2 linked regions of the Homo sapiens genome follow. The protein of the gene in region 1 interacts with the protein of each later gene in a pairwise test. Each region holds a gene or a part of one and is shown in the gene's direction. Other genes may lie near its edges.

Region 1 (4,290 bases):
GAAGACTAGGAGAATCTACTCAGCCGGAAGACTACGAGGTGCTGCAGCGCCACTAGCTCCAAGACTCCAGAAAAACAGGAATAGGGCATTCTGGCAGGTCAAAGCAGACAGAATACTTGAGCTCAGGAGTTGGCGAACTGACTATTAACCTGTAGCCCCAGTTACTTGGGAGGCTAAGGTGGGAGGATCGCTTGAGCTCAGGAGATGGAGACCAGCCTGGGCAACATGGTGAAACCTCATCTCTACAAAAAATACAAAAATCAGCCGGGCATGGTGGCATGTGCCTGTAGTCCCAGCTACTCAGGAGGCTGAGGTGGGAAGATTGCTTGAGCCCCGGAGGCTGCAGTGAGCCATGACTGCACCACTGCACCAGCCTGGGCAATAGAGTGAGACCCTGTCTCAAAACAAAAGCAAAAACCAGAGGTAGGGCTGAGGAGTCCGTGGCCACAGAGCCTGAGCCAGCACGGCCCAGAGGAACTGAGCTCCCAGCCCTGTCGCTGCCAAGGACCCTTCTTCCCTGAGCTTGAAGGGATTGAGAAGGAGAGACAGACGGACAGTCAGCGGCCCCGTTACCAGTGATGCAGACTCCAGGAGATGCGGGCAGAGTTGTAGATTAGAAGAATAGGCCAGCCCCTCTTCCACGTTCCACCACGGCCCGCAACATCCTCCTGGGACCCCAGCCTGCATGCCCCTATAAGATGCTTTTGCACTGGTTCAGTCTATGTATCATGCGAGGGCCTAATTGAAAACACGTGAATGAAGTGTACGGCCTTCTGTTCCCAGCTGAGGGGCCCCCTCCCACGGTGGCGTTAGCAGTGGGGTACAGTGCGGTAAGAGAGGTGCTAAGGGACGGGATGAGGGTCTTTCTTGCTTTAAAGGTGTCTAAATATACTTCTTCTTAAACTTAATTAGCTAATAAGATGTCTTATACAAGCAGAACCAGGTAAGGGAAAGAGCAAGTGTATTTCAAGTCGCAGCTCACCCCTTAATTAGCTGTAATACCCGCAGCAGGCGGCCCCACCTCAATGAGCCAGTCTCCCTTTCAAAAAAAAAAAAAAAAAAGGCACTAATAATGAGGGGGCGGGGCATGGAGCTTTATCCAATCAGGGGCGCTGGAGTGGAAACCGTCCAATCAGGAGTGAAGCCGGAGAGCAGGGGCGGCTTCCGGGATTTGGCGGGGGCCTTCGTCGGCTCCAGTTAGAGCTCGGGTCTCCTCGCCACAGCTCCGAGTCTTTCGTTCTGGGAGGCCCAGGCGGCTTCGCGTTCTGAGAATAAACAGAACCTCTGTTGCTCTGCGACTTGCAGGCACTGGGAGATTCGTAGCTAAGACGCCAGGGCATCCCGGAAGCTGGGAAATGGTGAGTGTGCGGGGTCGGGGGTCCCCAGAGGGAGGGAGGGCGGTGGTCGGAAGCGGCGGGAACCCGCTGTAGGGGCACCCGGGCCTCCCCGCAGTCAGCCTCGGGGTCTGGGCCCCGAGTCCCAACTGGTGCAGCTCGGCCCTCGGTCCCCTCCGCTGCAAGATGGCGGCCAGGCCGGCAGCCGGGACCCCGCGTGTCCTGTCCCATCCCGACCCCGCAGAGCGACCTCGTCCCTGGCCGGAGCCCTCTCTGGGCAGCTCCGCGTCGCAGCCCCGCGTCTCCCCCAGATTGTGCGGTGAGGACGGGAGCGTCTCAGGGGAGACCCAGGTTCGGTGTGTGGGAAGAAACCGTGCCCTGTGGGGTCCTCAGTCACTACTCCTCTTAAGAATTAAAGGGAGTCACTGTTAAAACGTTGAAGAATTTGAGCAAATAGCGATTTGTGACATGGGAAGCCTGCAGTCCTGGTTTGTGGTTCGGAGATCCCCAGAGGGGCTTGAAGGAAAGGTTTTTATAAGGTGCATGAGGAAGCAGACCAAATTAACCGATGGGTTACAGTTTGTAGTTGCCTTATTTAGACTATGCAGGTGGAGGTGAATTGGAGCTTTGTGGTTCGTTAAGTCTGAATTTTGTTTTCCCCTAAAGTTGTAATTTACAAGAAAAGCATTTGAGTTTGGTTTTGGTTTTTCTCCCTAGAAACCTGGGGCACTATAACCACTTCCGTATAATCGCCTGCTCATTAATCATCTTAACACTGCCCAGGGGAACTGGTTTTCCCCCTGCGCTTTCCTAACGTGTAGCACGCAGAGTCTCAAGTCCACCACTGTGTTCCCCCAGTCTAACTGGGCTTGCAATAAAATATTAAATTTCCAGTTCCTTCCCGACATTTCCAAAGGCCAACTTCCCCTCTCCAGTTCACATTCTTAACTATTGGTCATTTATTGTACATTTCAGACAGTATTTTACTCATTAATCATGATTTCACAGAGCAGTGGATGACACTTTTTTAAAGATTTGTGTTTTTTTGGCATACATTTCACGTGAGAGGAAAGCAGAGAATAAAAAATCCCTGACACTCCACTGCAAAAAAAACTGTGCCTCTTTTTCATTCATCTTCCCCAGGCACAGACACGTTATCGGAAAGAATGTCTTTTGACTTGAGGTTTTGCTTTGGAAACTTTACAGGGCCCTGTATAGCCACCCTCTATCCAGTCTTTTCCTGTTCCTGAATTTCAGAACTGTCTGGGATGACTCAAGATGCCCACAGTGGCCATGTCTCCTGGAGTGTTTAGTGACTGTCAGCCCCAGGTCACCTCCTGTTAGAGGACCGCCCAAGGTATGGAAATGTAGTCCCTCAGGGGAGCAGCTGGATGCCCTGGGGCTGAGAGAAATCTCCTGGGACACCCTTAACCTAAAAAGATAACCCCTTGGGACATAAGGATTTTATTTCTTCAAAGCTAGTTTTCATCCCTTGGAGACACATTGCTGGTCAGCCAATCGTTTGCTGGTATTGAGGGGAAACAGTCACAAATGATTCCTGCCCCCTAGATTCATTCAGATTTGTGAAGGGAGAAAAACTCCCAAAGGACCAAAAAACAAAAACCCCACCCCAGTGAGGTGGTGCAAACTCGGCTGCGGTGTCCATGGGGCACAGTGCAGGATCTGGGAGGATGGTCCCTGAGCATTTTAATGAGCAGTATTGGGGTAGGAGAATGTCTCAAATGATACCGTGACCTGACTTGACACTTGAGCCAGATATGTCTGTATTCCAACAGCATTACCACTCCCTGAGTTTGCTGCCTTAGATTGTTCATTTATTTCTACTTCAGTTTTTCAGTTAGTGTAAATTTCATCAGTAGAGCTTGAAAGATAAAAAACATTTCCAAGGCCATGAAAGGTGGATTTCAGAAAATTAAAATATCAAGTCATACTTCATTGTTAAAAATTCTTACTATCTTTTTTTTCAGCAGAATGAGTGTAGTAAGTTTCTCAGGTTTGTTCTTTTTTTGGGAGTAATTTAAAACAGAATCTCAGGGCTCACCTTTTGGAAATGCTGCCAGGGAAAAGAAACAGAGAAAATCTTTCTTTCATTATTGGCTGTAGAAAGTGAATACATTTTCACAACAACGTGTGGTAAATTGGTGAATTACATAGTTTCATCAAAACATCAGTTTCTTTTTTTTGTAGGGTGAAGAAGTTATGACAGTGGATATCTTTGTTCTTTATCCTCTTGTCTGGATGTTGAGTTTATTTTTTATTTTTTGTTTTTGGAGACAGGATCTCTCCTCTGTCACCCAGACTGAAGTGCAGTGGTGTGATCACAGCTCACTCAACCTCCTGGGCTCAAGTGATCCTCCCACCTCAGCCTTCCAAGTAGATGGGACTTACAGGGGTGCTGCGCCATGGCTGGCTATTTTGTTTTTTCTTTTTGTAAAGATGTGGGTCTCACTGTGTTGCCCCCAGAGTGGTCTCAAACTCCTGGGCTCAAGTGATCCTCCCGCCTTGGCCTCCCAAAGTGCTGGGATAACAGGCATGAGCCACCATGCCTGGCCTTGGATGTATGGCTTTAATGCTGAACGTAGCACTGGCTAGAATTGTTTATATATGATTATTTACTAAATGATCTGTTATCATGGAAATAAGTAAGTGGCCTATTTATTGTCTGAAAGGGATAGATACTTTAGTGTTTTCTGTTGAGGTATAAATTATAAAGGCGTTTCACTTTCCTTTATTCTATAAACACTGTTTGAGTAGTTTTGCTTTCTTCCAACACTGGGCATTCTCATTGAATACTAATTGAATAACCCTGACTGGGAAGCAGAAGCCTGAGCTCAGAGAGTGCAAACTAACCTGGTCTTGAGCCTGCAAGAAGAGGTCACTGAAGCCCAGTTAGTTCTTCCAGGGGAGTTTCCCCTGCAGGTTTCCCAGCCTGCTC
Region 2 (3,812 bases), on another chromosome or scaffold:
GGACCCTGCATCCTCCACCTCCTCCCATTCTTACCTTCTTTAATAATCTGTCCCTTTGGCCGGGCGTGGAGGCTCACGCCTGTAATCCCAGCACTGTGGGAGGCTGAGGTGGGCGGATCACGAGGTCAGGAGATCGAGACCATCCTGGCTAACACAGTGAAAACCCATCTCTACTAAAAATACAAAAAAAGAAATAGCCGGGTGTGGTGGTGGGCGCCTGTAGTCCCAGCTACTCGGGAGGCTGAGGCAGGAGAATCGCTTGAAACCAGGAGGCAGAGGTTGCAGTGAGCTGAGACGCGCCATTGCACTGCAGCCCTGGCGACAGTGTGAGACTCTGTCTCAAAATAAATAAATAAAATAATAATAATAATCTGTCCCTTTTTCCTGCATCTTCTCTACTGATCATTTTCAGCAGTGTGCCCGCATCCACCATTCTCTTGATCTTTATCCCACTCTTCCTTTAATCCTCTCTTTCAGGAAATGCAAATGCGTAGGGGGAAACCCTAAGGAATCATCCTCCAGTCTTCATCTTCCTGCACCTGTTGATCTGCAAGACCTGTTGGTTCTGCCTCCACAGCGCATATCCACTTCCATCATTTTTGCTGTCACCCTGGCCCAAGCCGACGTTGTCTCGAGTCAACTACCGAAATAGTTTCCTAGCTGATCTCTCTGCTTTTCTTCTGGCTCCCCTAAAATTCAGTCTCCGTACTCTGGCCAGGTGACCTTTATACAACAGAAATCAGTACCATCCCCTGCTTAAAAGTCTTCCATGGGTCCCGGTGCCTATGAACTGGCCCCTGCCTCATCTTGGGCTCATTTTCCTGCATGAAAGCAGCACATGTTGTTCTCTCGGCCTGGTATGTTCTACTTTTCAAATTTCTCACTCCTCAACCTTTAGCTTCTGCCTGAAAGGCCTCCTGACATCCTGTATCCAAGGCCTCCATGTTTCTCTTCTCAGTGCATCCAGTTCATTTTGGTATAGCGGAACCCGTCGCAATTCATAACTTCGTATTTATATGTTTACTTATTTTCTGTGTTTCCCATTAGCTTATGTTCCACAAGGGCAGTGATTGTGTTTCCAGTGCCTAGCAGAATGTGTGGTACAAATGAAAAACTCTTCGAATGAACTAATGAACCAACAGGGAAGAGTGGTGGTGATGGAGGTTTACAGAGAAGGCAGTGACCAGCTGCCCCACTGATTTAATTAGCTGCTTTTCCTTATCCAAGAGAAGGCATGACAGTTTTGCACATGTGTCGGATCCAGCAGCTATGAGAAGTTCAGATGGGGTGGACTCCAGTTGTTGTTCTGAACTCTAGTAGGAAGCCACCCCTATGAATGAGCCTCTATGTACAGGGTGCTGCAAATATAAAATCGCTTTAAAAAAAAGAGGCAGCATAACATAGTGCAAGGAACACAGGCCTGTGAGTACTGATTTAGCTTCTGGTCTTTGGTTTGTGTATTAGCTTTGTTCTTCTTTTCTTTGTTTTCTTTTCTTATTTGTGAAATAAGAGAGATTGGACTAGAAAGATAAAAGTCCTCTCCAGTTTGGCTGTGTTAACGGAGTACCTCACAGTGTTATCAGCAATCGAAACATTTAATTATCTTTTGAAACCAGAATATGGAGCTGTGATGGTTCTAGGGTTAGTCAGGTGGTTCAAAGGTGTCATCAAGGACCCAGGCTCTACTATTGTCTTCTGCTTTGCCATCAGCTTTGTCTCCAGGCTTGTCCCTTATGGTCACAGTGTGGCTGCTACAGCTGAGGGCATCACACCCTTCCACAAGAGCATCAAAAGCAGAAAAGGATGGTCATGGGGCAGAGCTGTCCTTATGGGTCCCTCTCTCTTCATCAGGGAGTAAAATCTTTCCTGGAGGTCCCTAGCAGATGTCCTTGTATGTCTCACTGGCCAGAACCACTTCATGTATCCACTAGACCAATCATGAGAATGGAAGTGCCATAATTTCCTTATCCCAAACATAAATTCATCCCCCAGAGCTGACCTGTTACCCGCTGTACTCGATACAGCTTAGTCCTGTGAACAAAGGAGGAGTAAGGGCAGGCTGCTGCATGGGCTGCCTCATGGACCTGAAGTTCTGTGATTCTTAGGACTCCGCCTTTGGGAGGCTTCCTTGTTATGCTGCAGGGACTAATTGTGTTATTCACATCTCCAGTGAGGCAATGGCAGAGAACAACTGTTTTTAAGGAAGGCTTTACATTCCTGAATGAGGTGGGAAACAGATGAATTCACTGGCCAAGACAAATTCAGTGAAAAAACTGAGCCCAGCAGGTCTTCTGTAGTATAGGGGCCCATGATTGAGCTGCCTGTTGCTAAGAGGGAGTAGAAAAGATTAGAGATCATTGTAAATTATGAGGCAAGACCTCAGCTAACTTCCTCAGCAAACGACTGGTTCTTCTGCCTGTTCAGGCTGCAACCTCAAGTATTCCTAGTAAGTAGAATCTTTCTTTAAAGCTGCCTAATAAAGTCAGATAATAAATGATGAATGTATTTGTAATGGCCATTTTTTTTTTTTTTTTTTGAGATGGAATCTCACTCTGTCGCCCAGGTTGGAGTGCAATGGTGTAATGATCTCGGCTCACTGCATCCTCTGCCTCCCAGGTTCAGGCAATTCTCCTGTCTCAGCCACCTGAGTAGCTGGGATTACAGGTGCCCACCACCATGCCTAGCTAATTTTCGTATTTTTAGGAGAGACGGGGTTTCACCGTGTTGGCCAGGCTGGTCTCAAATGCCTGACCTCAAGTGATCCGCCTGCCTCGGCCTCCTGAAGTACTGGGATTATAGGCATGAGCCACCATGCCTGGCCTGTGATGGCCATATTAAGAACATACTATGTGCTGGGAACTGTGCTAGGTCTTCGGGATACCAATACAAAGGGACAAGGTCCTAGTCCTTAAGAGGCTGACATTCCAGTTGAGGGATACCACAGGTATCAGATAAGCCAGCTCTATGACAAGTGAGTTATGGGGCAGGAGAATGGGAGTGGCCACCTCTACCTAAGAGGTGAGCAAGAAAGGAAGTGACCTTTTAAGAGCAACAGATGCTTTGTCTGATGTTGAGAATAGCATGAGCCAGAGGGAGCCATTGGTTAAGAATGGCAGGCACTGGACGTGTGGAGCCGAGGCTGGGGGGTTCTGCGGCCATGCTGGGAAGTATACGTCTTACACTGCAGGTAAAGCAAACAAACACTTCCCATGGGCAAGTCTTCAGGTAATGTCAATCAAATTATTTCCCAGTTTTCTCTTCCAGAGATTACAGAAGGATTTTATTTCATTTACTTAATACATTACATTGATTATGTTCATTTATACATTACATATGTATTATGGACCAGTTGTTAATAACAAAATGTGTACCTTTGCTATAAACCATGGATAGACTAGTGTATAGCAAAATGTCTAAAAGGGATATTATGGCATCTGTTGCTCTTATAAGGTCACTTCCTTTCTTGGTCACCTCTTAGGCAGAGGTGGCCGCTCCCATTCTCTTGCCCCATAACTCACTTGTCATAGAGCCTGCTTATCTGATACATGTTGTATCTCTCAACTGGATACTGGTCAAACCTCTTAAGGACTAGGATCTTGTCCCTTTGTATTGGTATCCCCAGTAGTGGTTTCTAGTATTTTTTTGTTGTTTGTTTTTTTGAGATAAGGTCTTGCTCTGTCACCCAGGCTGGAGTGCAGTGGTGCAATCACAGCTCACTGCAGCCTCAACCTCCTGGGCTCAAGTGATCCTGACTCTCCCACTTCATTCTCCCGAAATAGCTGGAACCACAGATATACACCACCGTGCCCGGC

Evidence for each region.
Region 2: the proteins of ZNF267 (region 1) and ADORA2B interact in a two-hybrid assay, tested with the Homo sapiens proteins (one large-scale study listed by BioGRID and IntAct).

What each region holds. Positions count from the first base shown.
Region 1 is NC_000016.10:31,872,612-31,876,901, forward strand, and holds the start of ZNF267 (zinc finger protein 267), read left to right. Parts: upstream 1-1,195; 5' UTR 1,196-1,355; coding exon 1,356-1,358; intron 1,359-2,540; exon of another isoform or gene 2,541-2,691; intron 2,692-4,290. UniProt on the Homo sapiens protein: May be involved in transcriptional regulation.
Region 2 is NC_000017.11:15,969,112-15,972,923, forward strand, and holds part of ADORA2B (adenosine receptor A2b), read left to right. Parts: intron 1-477; coding exon of another isoform or gene 478-652; exon of another isoform or gene 653-825; coding exon of another isoform or gene 826-857; intron 858-3,812. UniProt on the Homo sapiens protein: Receptor for adenosine. The activity of this receptor is mediated by G proteins which activate adenylyl cyclase.